Linked DNA regions of Homo sapiens: region 1 is linked to region 2. Evidence: fine-mapped expression QTL. Tissue or cell type: whole blood. Region 2 holds a variant in brackets; the other region holds the start of a gene. Each region is shown on its reference strand, or each on the opposite one. Region 1 holds the start of OTX1 (orthodenticle homeobox 1). Region 2 overlaps CHD7 (chromodomain helicase DNA binding protein 7).

Region 1 (2,803 bases), not on the chromosome of region 2:
CCTTATTAAAGGTCCTAAGAAGATCTCCCGGGTCCTTTGAGAAGCAGTTAAGGAAACAGTGTGCCCTCCATCATATTCTGTTACCGTATTTTATTCGGACTCCAAAGGAAAGTGTCGCTTGGGGGAGGGGGAAGCACTTTGATGAGCGGCGGCCGCGGCCCCTTTTCACTCAGCGGGCTCCCCCTTCGTTCTCCTCCTCCTCACCCAGCGCCCGGTCCGCTCTCGGCGCCCGACCCCGCAGCCCGGGCAGCGCGAGTGCTCCCCACTGCGATGCGCCTGGAGGCTCCTTGACTTGCCCTCACACTTAATCCTGTGCAAACTTTTTACCCCGCCTGTCGGGGTGGGGGAGTGGGGGAGATTAGAAACAAGGGGTAGAAATTCCTCGAAAGGGAATAAAGTGCCTAATTTTCAGGAGGAGGTGCCATTTAAAAGATTCGCCTAGCTTAGAGTTGGAACGAAAACTCTTTTTTGCACTTTTAAAAGTCCACCCAGGTAGACGTGTTTGGGAAGTTTTTTCGGGTGGGAAATGGGCTTCGCCCGTACGAACAATCCGGGGAAATCGCCTCAAGGAGGATCCTTACGCAGCATGTGGAAAAAAGTTGAGGGCAGGGGTCTGTGGCCACATTTTCCATCAAAAAGTCCCTGTTAGAGGCAGTCTAAGAAAGAGAGAGAAAGAGCGAAAAAGAAACTTTCCTATCAAAATGTTTCAATTAAGAAGTAGGGTGTACGTGTGAGGGGAAGAGGACGCTGGGCTCCAACGTTTCAGTAGAAGCGCTTAAGACTTGCAAACACCCTTGGTGGGGACCTGGAACCCCGGGAGATGCCGACGAGCAAGCAGGTAAGTGGCGGCGCCCTCCCAGTGGGTGCTCTTCCCAGGCGCGAGAGTCCGGAGGGGCCGAGGAGAGATCTGCACGCCCGGAGCTGCTCCCGCGCTCTGCAAAGTAGCCTGCGCCGGCACGAGCAGCCCGCGGCGTCGGTCTCAGGTGGCGGCGCCGGGGAAGAAAACGCTGGGGCCCGCGGCGCCGGGAGAGGGGCCGAGGCCCGGGCTCCTCCAGCCCGCCGCCCCCGGGTCCTGGCGCCCACACCCGAGCGGCTGAGCCCTGTAGCGCGCGGGAGAGCGAAGGAACCGGTTCTCCAGCACCTCGCCTCCTCCCTGCCACTCCCTCCGGAGCGCCGAGAGCGCGAGAAGGGCGGGGGCGCCCAGGGCAGGCCTGGAGACCCACGGCCCCCTCCGCGGCCAGGACTCGGGCTCTCCGCTCGCCTTCCTCGCCTAGCTCTGCGCCGCTTTTGCCAGCCGAGTCCCGGAGTTAGCGCGCGACCGGGGCGGGGCGGGAGGGCGGGGAGGGCGGGGTGTGGGGGGCGGGGGAGGGCGGGGGCGCGCGGAGGTAACCCCCGGCTCGCGCAGCCATTGCCCGGCTCCCTGTCACTCAGCCCGCGCGGGGCCCCCGATTGGCGGCCTAGCCCCGTTACGCACTCGCCTCGCGTTCACATACCCGGGGAGGGCAGTAGAAAGGTGATCAATCTTCATCAGGCTACATTTCCAATCACCTAAACAACCGAGCAAGACAAGCCACTCCGACAAGGTAAATCGCTTGATTTATTTAGTTTGCAAAGTGACTCTGCAGGACTTCCCAGTCCCCACTGCCTCCACGTTGCACCGGGAGTGCCGCGGCAACGCCGAGCCACCTCCCAACTCTGCCCCTCGAATTCCCCCCCTTGCGGCCCCTCGGCGCGATCCCAGGCGAGGCAATGTCCTGAGAACGTGTGGGGCTTAGCAAACAAAGTGTCTGTGCAATAAAGTGAAACCCAGAAGGACACGCACAAAGCCATTGAAAAAAAAGATAGAGGTGGGAAGAAGGAAGTTGGGAAAAGAAAGAAACCTGGGGGTCCTAGACCAGCCGCCAGGGTAATTCCAGTGCTGCTCTGTTTTGCAGGTTGGCTGCCCGGCGGGTCTCTGTGAGAGATCCAGGTAGATGGTGAACGGCCCCGGCAGCTGAGGGCAGGTAAGGAGAAAGCCGCGGGGCCACCCCGGACTCCGGGAGCGCGTTGGTTACCCTTATCTCCCCCTCCTCAAATGGATCCCGGCTTCCCCGGTCCCCAGCAGGTGGTCGGGGCTGTGGGAGCGGCCTGGCTCCCCTCTTGGTGAGCCGAGGACCCCGGGGCGCTGTCGCGGCCCGCAGCCCCCTCCCCCGCCTCCTCCGAAGTAACCAAGCTGAAGTGCTAAGTTTGGAGAAAGTCTTTGAAAACTCACGCTGCAGCTTCGCAAAGCCGTCGCAGCTTTGAGTCCCATTTTCCTTCGGCCCTAGAGCCCTGGCTGCTTCCCTTCCGGTCCCCTTCCTACAAGCTGGACTCCCTCAGCCCAGGTCTTGGGTCCCAGAAGACGGGGGCGGGAACGGGGCTGGGGGGAGCTTCTTTAGCTCTAACTTCTCTCCTTGAACGTCCTAGCCCGAGTCCCTGGCTTGCTTCACAGCGATCCCGCTAAGCGGGGTGTAGCGATGGCCCCCCAGGGCCCCAGGCCCAGTTTCCAGCGCCCCTCCCTGACCCCTGAGAGTGGCACCCCGGGTTCCCGGCAGCGGCGGGGGCGAGGCTTCGACCTCCCAGCTCGGGTCTGCGTGGGCTACGCCGCTGAGGCCTAGTTCTCTGTTCTCGACCGTGTCCTGGGGCCGCGGGTTCAGCTACAAGGATGGCAGCACGCGACTTGCTGCCCTCCGGCTTCACAAATCCCCGAGACCCTTTGAGGTGCTAGGCCAGTCACCCTTCACCCCCTGCTGGGACCCTGCGGTCCGCAGCCCAGACTGGGCAG
Region 2 (2,803 bases):
TCTGCATGCTTGCCCTTGCCTCACCTCTGCATCCTCCTCCAGAGGTTCAGTGTCAGCCTTATAGGAGCTGGTGATTGCCACGGGGTCCCCAGACAGAGCATGGCCACAGGGCAGCTCCTTCCTTCCCTTCCTTCTGTTCCACCCTCACTTTTTGTAGGCTTGACATCACCTGGAGCTTCTGTGTGTCAAGTCAGTAGCTTGAAATAAGTCTAGAATAAGTGGGAAAATCTTTCCTAATGGTGATTTTTTTAAAATCAGGCTAATAAACATGGTGTTACTAGCCTTTATACACCACCCTGGGCTTTACAAAACCCAGGATATTTTATAATATTAAGCAAGATACATACTAGCAATCAGCAAATTTTGTAAAATATACATTACTCTTCCATAAGTCTGCACTGTAAGCATTCTTGCCAGGTGGGTTGAAATACATTTCTGAAATTTAATTTTTTTCCTATCCAAAATAAATTACTTAAAAAGTTTTCATTTACTTATTTCTAGACCTGTCTCTTCATTTGATTTTCTTCTCTACCATATTACAATTAATTAGGATAACATTCAAAAGATATGAGACCTGGTGCAGTGGCTCATACCTGTAACCCCAGCACTTTAAGAGGCTGAGGCAGGAGGATTCCCTGAGCCTAGGAGTTCAAGACCAGTTTGGGCAACATAGTGAGACTTTGTTTCCCAGGAAAAAAAAAAAATTAGCTGGGTGTGGTGGTACACAACTATAGTCCCAACTACTTGGGAGCCCGCACTGGGAGGATTACTTGAGCCCAGGAGTTGGGAGACTGCAGTGAGCTATGATTGTGCCACTGCACTCCAGCTTGGGTGACAGAGCGAGACCCTGTCTCTTAAAAAAAAAAAAAAGATATGGGATAGATACACATATTTTATGTAGCTACATATGTGATCTACACCTAGGTATGGTATATATAGATACATGTTTGTCTTCATTTCTCTTTTGCCATACAATGTTGAGTACTTCAGGTGCTATTAGAATGTGTGCCCATCTGTTCCTAGGACATGTTGTGTACATGGAATGAAGACCCTGCTGGACATATTTTCTTAGTGTCTGCACTGCGGCAGCAGGTCAGCTGTCTCCACGTTAGGGTCAAGGTGCTGGCCACCTTCTCAGTGGGCTTAGCCTTTAGGAGTTAGCTTCAGAGAGGTATTTGAATTTTGAATTGCAGGGTGTAAAGGACACAAATTTTCATGATCCTTGTGCTTTTGTGGCATAATTTATGTATGGGGTAATATACTCCTTTTGACCACTTTGGAAAAAGCTAGTGCTGTGGGCATGCACTTAGTATAAGCTGTTAGCCAAGTGCTATTTCATTAGTTGCCTTGAAAGGAAACGTTAGCCTCAATACTGCATGAAGGAACAAAAGAACAGCTTTTTTTTTTTAT[C/CA]ATAAAGGCTACTCAGAATATCCAGAGTCTTCAAAGTTATGTAGAAATAACTGAAAGATTTCTGCAAGAAACCTGTGAAATAGTATGTTATGTAACATAGCATTAGATATTAATGTTAACTGCATTTTTTTGACTTGCACAAATGATTGGCAAACAGATGGGCATATCTTTAAAATTAAACCATCTTTAGATACCCACTCCTTGTAAACTGTTACAGATTAAATTTGTCACTAAGGGCTGTTCATAATTCTTTGAATGAAGTCAGTATTGTTTATTTGTCAGACACAAATGTCAAGACTACTTTCTTTAAGTGACATATCTTTGTATTGCTTTATAATATTCTTTGTAACATGTGCCATTTGTTGTTGATCCATTATATTAACTGAGTGGTCAGTGTGCTATCCTGTAGGAGGAGCTCAGAGTCTGAGGGCAGGACTTCCCAAACTTTCACATGCACAGGAATCACTTGGGGCCTTTGTTAATAAAGGCAGATTCTGGTGCAGGAGGTCTGAGGTGAGCCTGAGAGTCTGCGTCTCTTACCAGCTCCCGGGGGTGCCAGGGGTCCTGTCTCTCAGGATTCCACTTCACATGGCAAGGCTCCAGTCGCCAGAAAGAGAGGGAGGTGAACACATAAGAATAGTAGCGTGCTTGGCACTTTTGTAGCTTCTGCCCATGTTGATGTGGTGGTACTGCTAGCAAGGGCTTTGAAATCAGCCTGAAGAGGGAGGGTTGAGGGTCAGGAAGCTTCCGAAGATGGGTGATAACAAAGGAACTGAGATGAAAAAGAGGCCAGCCTCTACAGTGAGGGGATAAGGAGGCCAGGGAAGAGACCATGGGTGTGAAGGCGAGGAAGGTATGAGATAGCTGATGGATGGTTGGTAAACTTTGAGTAGTTTGATATACCTAATGGGGGTGTTTGTGAGTGCTTCAGGGGATAGAGGGAAGGGAGTTAAGGGAGTTGAGAATGGACAGGTCAATAAGGATTTGATTATTAGTGCCTTCAAGCATGCTGGAGCATTTGGACTGGAACCTGAAAGCTATGGGAGGTCCTTTAAGGATTTTAATCAGGGAGAGGTATGATGTAATCTGTGTTTTATAAGATCATTCAATCAGTAGTGTGAAAGCGTTGAGACCAGAATTAGGAGAACTGATTAGATTTCTAATTTTTTGTGGTTCACTAAACCATGAAGGTCTGATTACTTCAGAGCTAGTGTAAACAGGGAGGAGGAGTTAGACCCATAAATATCTGGGAGAGAGCATTAGCAGGTTGGGAAATGCACTGAATATGTGGGATGTACTGGGGCGTTTATTCAAACTGCAAGCTGCACGAGGACAGGGCCACATCTGCTTCGTTCAACACTGTATACACAGTGTCTGTTAACCTTGAATATTT

The links. PIP is the estimated chance that this variant, and not a neighbour inherited with it, causes the effect. A credible set is the group of variants that fine-mapping cannot tell apart.
Region 1: OTX1 starts here. The variant in region 2 is the best candidate, but not a certain one, in a credible set for the expression of OTX1 in whole blood (TOPMed, PIP 0.87).

Annotation. Positions count from the first base shown.
Region 1 is chr2:63,049,315-63,052,117 of GRCh38, forward strand. It overlaps OTX1 (orthodenticle homeobox 1), which reads left to right and starts at 1,516. Exons shown (of 5, transcript NM_014562.4): 1 at 1,516-1,583; 2 at 1,935-2,003. RefSeq lists enhancers at 1-654, 1-17, 18-765 and a silencer at 882-1,541.
Region 2 is chr8:60,732,382-60,735,184 of GRCh38, forward strand. All of the region lies in intron 1 of CHD7 (chromodomain helicase DNA binding protein 7), which reads left to right. Among named protein-coding and RNA genes, the nearest start is that of CHD7, 55 kb to the left of the region's middle. The variant C/CA (reference allele first, on the strand shown) is at 1,411.